2 separate regions of the Homo sapiens genome follow, and region 1 is linked to region 2. Evidence: fine-mapped expression QTL. Tissue or cell type: regulatory T cells. Region 2 holds a variant in brackets; the other region holds the start of a gene. All regions are shown on one strand. Distances are between the middles of the regions.

Evidence for each region. PIP is the estimated chance that this variant, and not a neighbour inherited with it, causes the effect.
Region 1: it holds the start of ASIC1, and the variant in region 2 is fine-mapped to the expression of ASIC1 in regulatory T cells (Schmiedel 2018, PIP 0.95).

Annotation. Positions count from the first base shown.
Region 1 is chr12:50,053,202-50,061,291 of GRCh38, forward strand. ASIC1 (acid sensing ion channel subunit 1) reads left to right here and starts at 4,395. Exons shown (of 12, transcript NM_001095.4): 1 at 4,395-4,715; 2 at 5,550-5,927; 3 at 6,558-6,753. The coding sequence starts at 5,566. RefSeq lists silencers at 4,198-4,357, 4,428-4,597.
Region 2 is chr12:50,130,213-50,138,302 of GRCh38, forward strand. CERS5 (ceramide synthase 5) reads right to left here. Exons shown (of 10, transcript NM_147190.5): 6 at 7,516-7,608; 7 at 5,729-5,857; 8 at 5,520-5,626; 9 at 4,334-4,490; 10 at 1-482. The coding sequence ends at 333. Among named protein-coding and RNA genes, the nearest start is that of COX14, 22 kb to the left of the region's middle. The variant G/GAAAAA (reference allele first, on the strand shown) is at 3,859.

The DNA.
Region 1 (8,090 bases), 77 kb before region 2:
TCTGAGAGGCTGGAGGGCGCTTCTGCACCTAAAGCAGATGGGGCCATCTGCAAGGGAAGCATCCATGGGGAATTTGCCCCCATCAGCCTTTCAGGGATGATCATAATGCTTGCCACTATTGATGGAACACCCCCTACTGTTTGCTAGACACACATTGTTTCAACAGCATGGGCATTAGCTGGGTTTTATGGTTTCTGGAGAAAAGTGAGACTCAGGCTAGGTTACTTGCCCAGGGCCACACAGCACTGGTGTGACAGAGCTGAGATTTGAACCTAGGTGAGCACAAGGCCAAAGTCCTAAGTGGGCCCTGGCTAGATGCCTCCTGCCAGCAGAAGGAGAAATATCTTCAGGCCTGTTTCCCTCTCAGTCCGTGGTGGGGATAAAGGGTACTGAGGTCTAAGGACTGCAGGGTCCAGAGAAAACGAAGCATGGAGAAGAAGCTGGGAGGATGCTGAAGGAGCCAGTATCCTCTGTCAGGACTTGGACAAGGGGTGGGTGGGCCAGAGAAGCAGAAAGAAGTAATGAGACACTAATCACAGCCCTTGGATCCCTCAAGTGTTATCTTACTAAGGCCCTGCCAACACCAACTTCCTCTTTTCCTCATCCTTGTCCCACAAACCCCTGTCAGAGTGACTGCCCCCCTGCCTCTCTCTGCTGGCAGCCCTGGCTCAGCCTTCTATTTCACTCCTGGCCCTTGCACTAGAGTCACAAGTCAACATGTTTGTCTCTCTTTCCACACTGGGATATTTTGAGGCAAGGACTCTGCCAATCCTCACCATGTCCACAGGGCCAATCTTGGGGCTTGATCCAGGAAAACCCTCGGTGAAGGTTTGCTGCGATGTACAGGGTAGGGATGAGGGGATGTGTGTGTGCAAGGACCCATCACTTCTCAAACGAAGAAGAAACAACAGCATGAGGGATTTAGGTTGTATATAAGAAAGAACTTCCTAAGACTGGGGCCTGTGACACTATGAAACCATAATTCAGACCCATAAGTTCTGAAGAGCAAGGTTGCTCAAGATTGGCTATATGTTAAAGGCCTCAAAAAGTTGGGCGATTGTCCGGGCGCAGTGGCTCATGCCTGTAATCCCAGCACTTTGGGAGGCCAAGGTGGGTGGATCACCTGAGGTCGGGAGTTCAAGCCTACATGGTGAAACCCCCAGCTCTACAAAAGATACAAAAAATTAGCCGGGCGTCGTGGTGTGCGCCTGTAATCCCAGCTACTCGGGAGGCTGAGGCAGAAGAACCTCTTGAACCGGGGAGGCGGAGGTTGCAGTGAGCCGAGATTGTGCCATTGCACTCCAGCCTGGGCGACAGGGTGAGACCCCAACTTAAAAAAAAAAAAAAAAAAAAAGGCCGGGTATGGTGGCTCACGCCTATAATCCCAGCACTTTGGGAGGCTGAGACGGGTGGATCACAAGGTCAGGAGATTGAGACCATCCTGGCTAACACGGTGAAACCCCGTCTCTACTAAAAATACAAAAAACTTTGCCAGGTGTAGTGGCGGGTGCCTGTAGTCCCAGCTACTTGGGAGGCTGAGGCAGGAGAATGGCGTGAACCCAGGAGACTGAGCTTGCAGTGAGCCAAGATCGCGCCACAGCCCCAGAGATTCTGATTTAACTGGTCTAAAGTGGAGCCATGGCATTGCAGTTTTTTTTTTTTTTTTCTGAGACAGAGTCTCGCTCTGTTGCCCAGGCTAGAGTGCAGTGGCACGATCTCCGATCACTGCAACCTCTGTCTCCCGGGTTCAAGCACTTCTGCCTCAGCCTCCTGAGTAGCTGGGATTACAGGTGCGTGCCACCACGCCTGGCTAATTTTTGTATTTTCTGTGGAGGCAGGGTTTCACCATGTTGGCCAGGTTGGTCTCCTGACCTCAGGTGATCCACTCACCTCGGCCTCCCAAAGTGCTGGGATTGCAGGCGTGAGCCACCACGCCTGGCTGGCATTGCAGTTTTATCTTATTATTTTTATTTTTTGAAATGGAGTTTCGCTCTTGTCTCCCCGGCTAGAGTGCAATAGCACAATCTCGGCTCACTGCAACCTCCGCCTCCCAGGTTCAAATGATTCTCCTGCCTCAGCCTCTCGAGTAGCTGGGATTACAGGTGCCCGCCACCACGCCCAGCTACTTTTTGTATTTTTAGTAGAGATGGGTTTCACCATGTTGGCCAGGTTGGTCTCAAACTCCTGACCTCAGGCGATCCACCCTCCTCTGCCTCCCAAAGTGCTGGGATTACAGGAGTGAGCCACCGCGCCCAGCTGGCATTGCAGTTTTAAAAGCTCCCCAGGTGATTCGAATGTGCAGCCTGGGTTAAGAACCAGTGCCTTAGATTCTGCCCTGGTTTGGCTGCACTGGTGGTTTTACCACTAGATCCAAATGCTAATACTAATAATAGTTATTTACTTATTGGGATTTACTAGGTACATGCCAATGTACTAAGCACTTTCCATGCGTTAGCTCATGTAATCCTCGAAAAATCCTGTGAAATAAATATTATCTCTGCCTTACAGATGAGGAAACCGAGGTCCAGAGAGGTCAAGGGGCCTGCCTATGCTAATGAATGGCAGGGCCAGGTCTGGAAGCTGATTCTCCTGATTCATACCTTCTGTCTTCCCCCAGACTCCTCCTGAGGCTGCTCCTTGGCCTCAATCAGTCCTCGCCTGCCTCCACCTCACCTCATCACCTTCCCTCCACCCCCGCTGCTCCCTCAGTAACATCCCAGGTGACTGAAGCAATTGCAGCCATTTGAAGAGGCTCCACGTGTCAGTCAGCCTGCGAGCCGCGGGGAGGTGGGGAAATTACAGATGCTCCAAAATAGTGTTCCCCTCCCCCTGAGGATATTTGGAATTCAGGAATCAGACTCTGCCTGATGCTTCCTCAGGTCTCTGGGACCCTCCCAGGTGATTTCCCACTCTCAAATGCCCCCCACGAGTTGATTCTAAGTATCTGGGAGAGGGCTGCCACCCAGTGGCTGCCCGGGGGCATAGCAACCCTCCAGCACTGCCTGGTACCGCTGAACAGCTCCCCAAGACCTGAATGGAAGATCCTCCCTTCCTTTTGGCAGCTCCGTGTCCAGTCCCCTAGTAAATGGATCTCGACCTCCCTCCTCCACAATCTTAAGTCCACTCTCCCACTAGGGACCTCCAGACCCCTTCTCTGGTTTCCTAGATGTCCACTACTCCCAACTTCTCATCCAACTTCTTTCCAATGTGCCATCCCCTTCTCGTTACAGGTTTTCTTCTAACTTAAAGCCCGGCACCATGTCCTAGGAATACACCTCTCACCATCCTTCTCCCCGAGCCGCACCAGCCTGCAAGTAGAGCGAAGGAGCCACTAGAGACAGAACTCTGGTCCCCCGCACCCTCCTCCTCATCATCTGACACCATCAGACCTCAACAGCCTCTGTGCTAAGAGCCCCTAATGAGCATCAGCAAATTAACAACTTCCCCTTGATTGCTCCTTCTCTGTTAATTGGATAGGGAGGGCCCCCCTCCCCAAGGCCTCTCAGAGAAGAGGAGGGAGGCAGGGAAGGAGAAAGGTGAGAGCCACAGGAGCAGCCCCCAGGCCTGCGTTCTGTGCTGAGACTTCTGCTCCATCCCTGAGCATAGCTCCCCGTTCCAACCCTTCCTCACCCTGTCCCCTTCACTCCCTTTGCCTCCTTCCTTCTGTCCAAATTCCCTTGACCTCTGGCTATTTTTCCTTCCTTTTCTCTGCTCCTTCTTTGGAGATTTGGCAGTAAGGGGTTGCGACCATGCCCCCCACAAGCCCAAAGCTACAAGGATGGGATCTGAGTGGTCAAGGCTGCGTGTTGGCTCACATATGTGCACGTGTATATGTGTCACATGCAGGTGGGAGCAGGGATAAGAGCAGGTGAGTGCTTGCCATGTGGGTCAGGCCCCCGGGATACGTGGACATCTGTTGCGGGGGGGTGTGGTTGTGAATGGTGTGGTGTGACTCTGGTCGGTATGTGTGTCTGTCTCCATATGGGCTAAGTGCTTGAATTAGTCAAGTGTGACTCGGAGCGTGTGTGTGTATGTGTGTGTGTACGCGCGTGTGTGCCACCAGAGGAAGCAGCAGCAAGAGGCAGGAGCATCGATCCGAAGGAGACAGCGCGGGGAGAGGGACGCTAGGGGCAGACACCCTCCCTCCTGCGCGCACACACGCGCGCGCGCACACACACCACACACAGAGTCATACACACAAGCCATAGGGCCTCGCAGGCAGGGAGACGGCTCCGGGACTGGAGAGAGGCAGCGCCGCCGAAAGCGGCCGCGAGGAGGGGCGAGGCGGCGCGGGGAGCCCTGGGTCCCGCTCCCGGATCCGGGGCCCCGCGCGCACACCAGCCCAGAGACAGCCTCGCAGACACTCGTAGGCGCGCACGCGCACCCTCTCCCCTCCCCCTCCCCTCCCGCCGCCTCCCGGCCGGACGATGGATCCCTGCAGATCCCAGGGCTGAGAGCACCGCGCACCGCGCCGAGCCCGGGCAGACCGAGCCGAGGCGAGCGAGCCAGCGAGCCAGCGCGCGCGGGCGGGCGGACAGATCGGAGCCGAGCGGGGCCGGGCGGGGCGCTCCCTGCAGGGCTCTGCGCGGCGTGCCGCGGCGGCCGCGGGCTCCGGCCCCGGGCCATGAGCCCCTCCGCGACTCGGCGCTGAGCCCGCCACCGGTCCAGCGCCCCAGGACCCGCCGCCGGCTGCCGGCTTGCCGAAGCCCCCTCAGGTGGGTTTCCGATACCCCTGCCTTTGGCCGCGAGGCTCCTCGGTACCCCGAAGCCGGGACTCTCCTCCCTCTGGATTTCCCTTGCTGCTGGGGCGGCTCGGTGGCTGGGGAGGGGGGCGGGGGCCGAGCTGGGGATCTGACTGCGACGAGAAGCTGGACTGGGGGGGGCTGCGTCCGGGGCGGGGACAGCTCGCTGTCATAGGGAACCGCGCCCCCCCTCCATACATCCACCTCGGGCAGCCCGCCACCCCCCACTCCCAACATACACACAGCCTGCGCTTATGTGAGAACTGGAGACACCCGCAGGTGAGGACTCAGGCTGGGCCCCTCCCTAGATGTAGCCACCTCCCTGGGGGTTTTCTGGCCCCAGTTTAGCCCTTAGGACCACAGCCCCGTCCAGGGAATACCCGTGACCAGGACAGGAGCTCCTTACCCCGGGGTCAGCCCATCTGGGTGAGTTTTCATCTCCAGGATGGGGTGGATATTCTTGTCCCAGAGTGACCCCACATCTGGAGGGAACTCCTGCGCCTGCCTATGGGTGCATCAGGACTTCCCCCTCAACCTCGGATGACTATATCTGGGGTCTCCCCGGGCCTGGGAAGCTTCTCTGGGGAGCATTCTCTTGGCCTGACCTGACCCCCTGTGCCTCTGTATTTGGAGGAACCCTGGATGTGTCCCTTGGTCAGCCACCTCTGGGCTTGCAAAGCAGGGAAGTCTTCTGCCCGAGGAGTGGTGACCTCTGGAGATGAGGATTCTGGATGGGCACATGTGGAGGGGCTCCATGTGTACTTTCATCCCAGGACAATGATAGACTGTCCCTCCCTCCTCCCCCAGGATCCCCTCAACAAGGATGGAACTGAAGGCCGAGGAGGAGGAGGTGGGTGGCGTCCAGCCGGTGAGCATCCAGGCCTTCGCCAGCAGCTCCACACTGCACGGCCTGGCCCACATCTTCTCCTACGAGCGGCTGTCTCTGAAGCGGGCACTGTGGGCCCTGTGCTTCCTGGGCTCCCTGGCTGTGCTGCTGTGTGTGTGCACGGAGCGTGTGCAGTACTACTTCCACTACCACCATGTCACCAAGCTCGACGAGGTGGCTGCCTCTCAGCTTACCTTCCCTGCTGTCACGCTGTGCAACCTCAACGAGTTCCGCTTTAGCCAAGTCTCCAAGAATGACCTGTATCATGCTGGGGAGCTGCTGGCCCTGCTCAACAACAGGTGGGTGGCTCCCACCCTCCCTCAGCCCTGCTCCTGGAGTTGCTTGAGTTCCAGTCAGGATGTCTGCCTCCCTGACCCACCATAGAGCCCAGCCAACCCTGCCCTTTAACCCACCCCCACCCCCAAACCTGCCACTCACAGCAGAGGAGTTAGGGTGCTGCTGAGCACCCAGTTAAGGGCACCCAGCCTCCGATCCCAGCATAGTCCAGAACAGCTCGACCCCCACCCAGCCTGAGGTATGAGACATTGTCACCCTCTCTGGAGTGAGCTTTACCTTCATTCTGGCCACTCTGTCTTGACCTTCTCGTCAGTTGGGGGATGGGGACAGAACATCTTTAAAGGGTAGAAACTACAGTATAAAAGCCACAGCCCCTGCCTTGTCTCTCTGCCCACCTTATCCATGCTTCCTCTCACCCATGTGCTGGGATGGGATGCCCTGCCCCTGGGCAGCCACTACAGTTCCTCCTGTCATTTCAGACCCATGTGGTAGAGCCTCTGCATGCCCAGCTCTCCTTCCTTGCCTACACCTGGGACTGATCCCCAGGGCTGGAGGCTGCCCCCATCACCCAAGTTGGGTGCAGGACACTGATGACTGTACTGACCCGTGTGTCACTCACCCCCGGACCCCAGGTATGAGATACCAGACACACAGATGGCAGATGAAAAGCAGCTGGAGATACTGCAGGACAAAGCCAACTTCCGCAGCTTCAAACCCAAACCCTTCAACATGCGTGAGTTCTACGACCGAGCTGGGCACGACATTCGAGACATGCTGCTCTCCTGCCACTTCCGGGGGGAGGTCTGCAGCGCTGAAGACTTCAAGGTGGTGAGTCCCCTCGTGTGGGGTGTGAGTCAGCCTGGCCCACAGAGGAGGAGGAGGAGACAAGGAGCAGGCTGGGCCTCTCCGGGTGCTTGCTACTCTGGGAGAGGAAGTTGTATGTCCTGGGGTTTGCTTCTAGTAGAAGGGGAGTTTGTTCAGCATAGGGGCACATTTGCACTCACTGCATGAGCACCTGAGCCTCAGCCTTGCAGCCATGATGGCAGGAAAGAGAGCCTACAGTGCACAACACACACATATATGCACACACGTGCGTGGTCTGGCATAGCCACAAACCCACCAAGCTTACCTTCTAGGCCACAGGTGTCAGAGCTGAGCAGACAGGTGGGTAAGCTACAGCCGTGTTACTTGTAGTGAGGTCCAGGACCATCAACTGGGAGCTTGAAAGGAATGCAGGACTTTGCCACCCCACTTCCCAAACCTACTGAACCAGAATCTCCATCTAATAAGATCCTCAGGTGACTGGAGTATACACTAAAGTTTGAGAAGCACCGTGAAGCACAAGTAAGGGAAACCTTCTCTTAAATAGCCAGACAGTAACTCCCTGTGTGCCATCCGCACCCCATACATAGACACATACACTGTTTGGTTAGGTTTCCTGCTTGCCGGCAAGAGCCGCAGAGCCAGGATCTGAGGAAAGGAAGGCCATCGGGACACCCAGTCATGGCTGCCCTGGAGGCTTCCTTTGCATCTTAAAATGGAGATGCCCCACAGATGTGGCTGCCTCAGGCCAGCACCTCAGGGAGGGCATAGGGAAACTGATTTTGGCATCTGATGTGCTGGGCAACCCTGGGCAAGTCACACAGATTCCTGAGGGTTAAGACCTGGACCCAGATGGCAAAGAGACCAGAGGCTCCAGAGCCATGCAGGAACAATAACACCAAATGAATGGACAATGCTTGTAACTCTTTCAAATGCTTTCTAGGCTCCCCTCAATCCCCTTGATACATAATCACATTACCTCTGTTTTACAAATGCACGAAACTGAGACACAGGCAGAATGATTTACCCAAGCTCACACAGTTAGTGACAGGTGACAGGTTCAGGATTAGAACTCATGTCTTGTTAAGCTGAAAATGTCCTTTACTCTTTTAATTAATATTGTGGACCCTGGGGTTATTGTGTCCACTTCAAATTCTTGCCAGTCTTTTCCAGGACCCTTTGCTCTCCATGCCTACTCAGCTCTTGGATTCTCTTCCTTCTTCCTGCCTATTTTCTCCCCGCTTGCTTGCTTCCTCCTGCAGTATGGGAATATGAACTGTATTTGTGCAGAAAGGATGGCACCATAGTCATGCTTAGTGTTTCTAGCTGTGCAAGACCTCCCA
Region 2 (8,090 bases):
CTAAGGTGGGTTCAGTGGGGACCAGGGAAGGCCTCATGGCCCCAGTCCACAATTGTGCCCCAACCCCGGCAATGAAACTCACGCATATGCACAAACGCACATCAACAAACACACAAAAACACACAGAGCAAATAACATTACTGAAAGAACCTGGAGGCTATTAAATACAAAATGGCAGTTTTCTTTCAAAGTGAAAATATTTGCTTCTTTGATACTCCTCAGTGCCTTGCAGTCTCCCAATCACAGAAGAGTAGATATGGGAAGGGCCAAGAGGAGTATGTTGCCAGTGGCCCTACAAGTCCATGTGTGCTGAAGTCCCTATAGCAACCACCTTACTCTTCAGCCCAGTAGCTGCCTCCCATGTGACCATTCACCCGATTGGCACCATTGCTGGAGCTACTGTCACAGGGACTTTTTGTGCAGGTGGTCACATCTTCTTCCTCTGAGCTGCTCTCCACATCACTGCGATCATCCTTCGATACCTGGGTGGGATGAGACCAAAGACAGAAAAGTGAGGAAAGAACTGTAAGACACCTAAGCTCAGAGACCCAGGTGTGGGCACTGTGTTCCCAGTCTGGTCTGCTTTCTGATGACATCTAACTCAAAGAAGTATTGTCTGGACTATGGCTACTGTTGTGACTATGCTTTACCTGCTTTCTAGTTTTCTCCCTTGTCATCTCCAATTCTGTTCTCTGTGGAATTGAAGCTACTTTGGTAGAGGAGTGTGTCTTTCAGGACCAGCCTAAGAGAACTGACATCATTCACTGAGACCTGGTTTAGGTTTCAGACACCCTTTCTCTTCTTCCACTTCAAAGAACAGGGAAGGCCAACACGAACAATACGTATGACTGTCAGCAATGCTTCTATCTTCTGGTGGTTGTGGACAATGCATTTATTCGTATTGGTTATGCTGTTTTGCTTTATCCCCAAAGCTGATCCATAACAGGCCTTTTTTAGTAGTTTCCCACTCCTGGGCTCAACTACCACTATCCTATGACACTGTTTTCCAATCTTCTTCCCTTTCCCAATAGCAAGATCACTTTTCTTATGAAACTTCAGCATCCCTGGCTGGGCGTGGTGGCTCACGCCTGTAATCCCAGCACTTTGGGAGGCCGAGGCAGGCGGATCACAAGGTCAGGAGTTTGAGACCAGCCTGAGCAACATGGAGAAACCCTGTCTCTACTAAAAATACAAAAATTAGCCGGGTGTGGTGGCGCGCACCTGTAATCCCAGCTACTCAGGAGGCTGAGGCAGGAGAATCTCTTGAACCCCGGAGGTGGAGGTTGCAGTGAGCTGAGATCGTGCCACTGCACTCCAGCGTGGGCGACAGAGTGAGACTCCATCTCAAAAAAAAAAAAAAAAAAAGAAAAAAAAAAAGAAACTTCAGCATCCCCAAGATACACAGTATAGTGAAAACACAAATGGATTGGCAGTCAATGAGAAAAGAATCCCAGTTCTAATCATGCTACCATCTGTGAATGCTTATTAACCTGGGTTTTTTTGTTTTGTATTATTTTCAAATGAAGCATTTGGATTACAGCAGCATTTCCTAATCTAAACTATCCTGCATATCAAGCAAAGTATTTCAATTTCTCCACCATGAGCCAGGCACAGTGGCTTACACCTATAATCCTAGCACTTTGGGAGGCTGAGGGAGGAGGACAGCTTGAGCCCAAGAGTTTGAGACCAGCCTGGGCAACATGGAGAGAGCCCTGTCTCTACAAAAAATAAAAAATGACAAAATCAGTTGGGCATGGTGACATGCACCTGTAGTCCTAGCTACTTGGGAGGCTGAGGCAGGAGCATCTCTTGAGCCCAGGAGGTCGAGGCTGCAGTGAGCCATGATTGCGCCACTGTACTCCAGCCTGGGCAATGGAGCAAAACCTTGTCTCTAAAAAAAAAAAGGGCCGAGCATGGTGGCTTACGCCTGTAATCCCAGCACTTTGGGAGGCTGAAGTGGGCGCATCACCTGAGGTCGGGAGTTCGAGACCAGCCAGACCAACATGAAGAAACCCCGTCTCTACTAAAAATACAAAAAAATTAGCCAGGCGTGGTGGCGTATGCCTGTAATCCCAGCTACTCAGGAGGCTGAGGCAGGAGACTCGCTTGAACTGGGCAGGCAGAGGTTGCAGTGAGCCAAGATCACGCCATTGCACTCCAGCCTGGGCAACAAGAGCTAAACTCTGTCTCAAAAATAAATAAATAAAAATTAAAAAAAAAAAATTACCCTGGACTCTAATAGTAAAGAACAGAAATCCAGTGAGACCTGTGTCGGACTTCTGACCTCCAGAACTGAAGGATAATAAATGTGGTTTAAGTAAAGGAGAGAAGGAAGTGAAAAGGAACACAGCTGTAACAACTGTTGCCAAGGAGGTGGGCATTTGCTTTGGATCAGCTCCTTGAATTTGTGTTGGATGGGTCTTCTACAGTTGATTATAGCTGTTGGCCTCTGAACTTAGATGACTAACTGATTACCTGACCTTTAGGAAATTTCCACTAGAGGGCAGAGTGTCTCTAGATTTGAGGTAAACAGAGACTCAAGAAAAACAAAAAAAAGTAGACTCAATTCTTGCCTCAGTTTAGGAAAAAATCTGGCAACTGCAGCTCTAGTCAATAATGGCCCCGAAAAGTCAGGAGAGAGGGCATGCTCTGAGACAAACACAAGGGAACAGAAAGGAGAGCAGGAGGAAAGAGAACCACATTCAGATGGACATGCCTCACTGAATACTAGAAGCACAGATACACTTACATGCAAGAGATGAAACTGTCCAGCTCCCGCCAGGCATAGAAAAAAGGAAGGAGGTGAGGAAAGAGTGGAGAGTACAGGGTCTAATCCTTCCTGGACAGGTCACCTAGTCAGGAAAGAAAAGCAGGAGAGAACAGAGATGTCCAGTAGCTACAGCAAGATGCACAGGCACACTGAGCAAGTTCTGAGCCAATGGCAGCTATAAGGAATAATGATGCAGGAGATCATCAATATCTAGGCCACATTCCATCACTTGGTCCTAGTATCAGTACCTGCTCAAGCAGAGCCCCTCCCACTTGGGATTCTGTATTCCTTTAGGCTGAAATCCCTAGCCCTTTGACTACAGTCTGACTGCTTCAAAACTTGCAAAGTTCAATTATGAGTTTATCATTAAGTGGCACCTTTCTTTCGCTCTTGGCATAAGATGGGTATTTGAAACACTACATACCCATTCACTTAGGACACTTGCCTCATACACTAGTGGGGTGAGGTGGGTATTTAGTTCCTTATATAAACCATATCTTGAATATCACAGCATGGTCACCTTGTGGTGGCTTGTGAACTACCACACACCACTTCTAGGCAACTTAACAATCTGCTTTTATACAGTTTATATGGTTCTGCATATGATTTCCTTTGAAAAGGGCCCCATGTCAAAAAGAAAAATATGAAATCCACTGAAGCAGGTAGGTAAGGGGTAGGAAATGGTTGAGGCCATCTCTTAAAAAACTCTTAACCCTATCATCCTTTAACAAAAGCCATTCCTAAGGGACAGGAAGAAGGTAGAACTTTCCTCTTGCGTCTAAGTCACATCTTAAAAGGTAAAACAGGCAGGCCAGGTGCGGTGGCTCACGCCTGTAATCCCAGCACTTCGGGAGGCCAAGGTGGGCAGATCACAAGGTCGGGAGTTAGAGACCAGCCTGGCCAACATAGTGAAACCCCGTTTCTACTAAGAATACAAAAATTAGCCAGGCCTGGTGGCATGCGCCTGTAATCCCAGCTACTAGGGAGGCTGAGGCAGGAGAATCGCTTGAACCCAGGAGGTGGAGGTTGTGGTGAGCCAAGATCGTGACATTGCACTCCAGCCTGGGCAACAGAGCGAGATTCCATCT[G/GAAAAA]AAAAAAAAAAAAAAAAAAGGTAAAACAGGCTTGGTGTGGTGGCTCACACCTGTAATTCCATCGCTTTGGGAAGCCGTGGTGGGAGGACTGCTTGAGGCCAGTAGTTGGACATTGGCCTGGGTAACATAGTGACACCCTATCTACAAAAAATAAGAAAATTAGCCAGGCGTGGTGGTGCACACCTATAGTCCCAGCTACTTGGGAGGCTGCAGTGGGAGAATCCAAGCCCAGGTGTGAGGCTGCAGTAAGCTATGATCATGCCACTGAACTCCAGCCTGGGTGACAGAGCAAGACCTTGTCTCTAAAATAAAAAAGGCAAAACACTTACCGAAGAGGCGAAGACTTTGGAGCCCTAGGCTTTTTGCTTGGCCTGCTTGAGTAGATGGGGCTCACCAGGTTTGATGGAGAGAGAACGTCTGTTGAGTAATCCCTATCTTCCATACCCAAAAGAAAGAAGCCATCTTTCATCCTCACCTTTCCCCTGATCAAGGCTTTCAAAGCAATCCGTGCAATTAGGTAGGACCAGATGACATGCAGAAGCTGTAGGGTCAGCAGCAGGCCATTGAGGAGCCACCATGAAGCATAAGGCCCGATTATCTCCCAACTCTCAAAGAGGGTCGTGTTCAGAATCCTAGAAGAGGGAGGCCAATAGTCAGATTCTAGAGTCAAAGCTCAGCAGACAGGGATGAAGCTGAGTCCTGGGGATGCAGAGCCCTGTGTGTTTTCCTACCAGCCCTTTTATCAGCTGAAGTTCCAGGGACCGTCATCCACAGTAAGAAAATAAAGAAAGGGAGGAGCCTGTTGTGTTTTCTATCCTTAGGGACAGAGAAAGATATATAAATCTTAGGAACTGATGGATTAAGTCACATTATTAATCACTTCAAATATCCAGAGTTTCACGAAATTAGGACAGCAGTGGGACTCTAATCCTATGAATGACTGAGCTCCTCAGGCACATATAGGATAGGACAGTAGGTAGCTGATTCCCATAGAGCAGTGAATGTAAAAGTGAAAGGAGACAGGGAGAGAGAGGAGAGGGAGGGAGGGAGAGAGAGGAGAGGGAGGGAGAGAGAGAGGAGGGAGGGAGAGAGAGGGGAGGGAGGGAGAGAGAGGAGAGGGAGGAAGAGAGAGAGAGGAGAGGGAGGGAGAGAGAGGAGGACAGGGAGGGAGAGAGAGAGGAGGGAGGGAGAGAGGGGAGGGAGGGAGAGAGAGGAGAGGGAGGAAGAGAGAGAGAGGAGTGTGTGTGTGTGTGTGTGTGTGTGTGTGTGTGTGTGTGTGTCAGGGTTGGGACCAGAGCAGGAACACAAGCAAGAAGGGACTGAGAATTGTATCAACAGTGCAAAAGAAGTCAAAGGAATTACTTAGGCATAAAATGAGGACTGTTCCTCAGAGATGAGTCAGTCCTGAGAAGCCAACCAAGCCGGGTACTCTGAGTCTGGATCCGACCTTGCTAGAAATACGGTCTGAGGCAGCAGAGGTCCTATGAGAGTCCACAGAAGGTCAGCACAGGCTAAGGTAAAAGCAGGGCAATAGGGTTCTTGTGTTCTATTGGCGAAAGTAGAATAGAATAGAACAGAAAAACTGAATGGGCAAAATGAGAATTGGCAAAAAGGTATCATTAGGCTCATACCTACCACAACTCTACAGCCCTACCACTTACCAGAATGGATAGATTCCTAGTCGTGTAACCATAAAAACAGCACTGAAGATCACAAAAAGGGTGTCACAGAGCCGCTGATACTTGGCATAATTGGCCAGTTTGGCTGCCTGGAGAAAGGAAGAAAGAATTGAGCTGGGGAGAAAGTCATTCCTCACATAGGAAGAAAAGAAGAGAAGAAGAAGATGGAGAAAGAGAGATTGGGTTTTTACCTCCAGCAAGAAGTCTGAGACATCATGTAGACACATGATCAGAGTTCCCACTCGAACCATATTGTTGATGTAGGAGAAGGAGATAAGCCCAATGGTGACCAAGTGATGCACAAACATGATCAGGAAGTCCTAGGAAGGAATGGAAATAGAAGAGGGAGGTAAAAGCTGGGCCCTAGAAACACCAGCCAACCCAACGTCCTGCATTATTCTCTAAGAATCTTACCCCACCCCATATAGAATAGTTTCCATTGGCCGGGCGAGGTGGCTCATGCCTGTAATCCCAGCACTTTGGGAGGGCAAGGTGGTCGGATCACCTGAGGTCAGGAGTTCGAGACCAGCCTGGCCAACATGGGGAAGCCCCGTCTCTACTAAAAATACAAAAATAAGCCGGGCTTGGTGGCATGTGCCTGTAATCCCAGCTACTCGGGAGGCTGAGGCAGGAGAATTGCTCAAACCTGGGAGGTAGAGGTTGCAGTGAGCTGAGATCGCGCCACTGCACTCCAGCCTGGGCGACAGACTGAGATTCCGTCTCAAAAAAAAAAAAAAAGTTTCCATTCTGCTTAGACTCTCCCTTGGCTACCTAGCATTTAACTGAACACTCCCTACATCAGTGACTGACCCATACTCTATGTTAATGCAGCTCAGAGGCCAGAAAGTAAAAATTTCCTTTGGTAACTGCAGAATACGTATAGCATGGATGCTAAGCTGACACTTGGGGATAACATCCCAGTAAGACATACAAGCCTTAGAGTTCCCTGAGATTCTATGACTCTTCTGCTTTAATGAGAGAAACGTCAACCACAAGGACCTAATGGAAGGGAGAGGTTTGTGGCTCTAATTTCCTCTTGGGTTCAAATGTCAAGTTAGACCTGGGGAAGTCTCTAAATACTTGAGTTATCAGACACATCTATTAAATACTTCTCAGTTTATTATTTTTAAAACTTAAATATGTATTTCAAACTTTCTTATATGTATCACAATTAAAATAAAATTTTAATAAAGTGACCTGTGTCTTCTGACCATAGGAGAGTAAAAGGCATAAAAATTGAGTATCAAGTTTCTATGTTAGATAACACTAACAACCTGGGTAAGTTTTAATTCATTCCCATAAATGCTAACCCTGGTTTTCTTCATCAAAGATAACCCTGAGTTAGTGACAGATTAGGGTTAGAGCTGCTAGAACCACATTATTTCAGGTAGACACTAATAAAAAGGTAAAGATTCTGCCTTTAAATGACTTAAGTTGTGTAAAACTTAAGTCATTTCCAACTCTGTCACTATCTGGGCAAGTCAGCTCACTTCTCTCAATCTTTGCTTCCTAAACAATAGCAGGAAGAGAGCAAAACCCCTTCCAATTGACTTTCTTTGAGTAAGTGGGGTAACCAGAAAGGGAGAACAGAGAGAGCAAGGGTCCCTAATGCCATGTGAAAGCCATATCCAGCTTTTCTGGAATCAGACATTTTTTCTGAATAAGGCATTGCTATCCCCCAATTCTGACTAGTTTCCTGAGCTTTAGATATGTAAGAAGCTTAAAGAAGAATATGGAAAAAAGTATGCTTCTTAGCTGGTTAATTGTTCTCATCCTGGGGCTTCCCTGAATGTCTTAAATATACTTCATCATTAATTCAGTCTCATTTCTGGGAACATTACGACAAGCTAAGAGTCCATCAAACCCAGTTTCTCCTTTTGCAGTCTCAGGGAAGATAATACATCGTAATGGCAGTCATGGAAGCTGCTAGAAAGGAGGATGTAATAAGTTGGGGAATTGAGGGAGCCAACGTCCTTACCTTTCTTTTAATGTCTGTAAACTGAGAAAACATAAGGGACCAATAGAAGGCCAATTCCATGATATAATAGTGATAAAGCCCACTTGAAAGAGGCTGGAAGAGAGAAAGAAGTAGTTAGATTACCGGCTAGTCAAAGGTGCATTCCATCTCTCCAACTTTCTCTGCCTTGGAGGACCAATACCCCAAATTATTAGACATCTCTCCTCCCCATTATCTGCCAAGATATGCAATAGCTAACAGACTTTGGATTGGTGTAGAGACTTAAGCCTCTTCCCTTGCTCCTCTGCACACACATCTTCAGCTCTCATCTTGCAGAGATGAGATACAGTTAACACATACTGTAACACAATCAAATCAGTATGTCTAGGATTCTGGGCAATTAGTGCTTTTCACAGGATTAAATACACATAGGCCTTCTCTTCCACCCCTTTAGCAGTTCCTAGACATATTTCCAGTATAGGTTACAACCAAGATGCTCTACTGGGATTCCAAGTTACCCTTGATACAAAAAAGACACCTGAACCAGAAAGTACCTCATTAAATACCAGAAACTTGCTTTTCTTTTAGCCCAATTA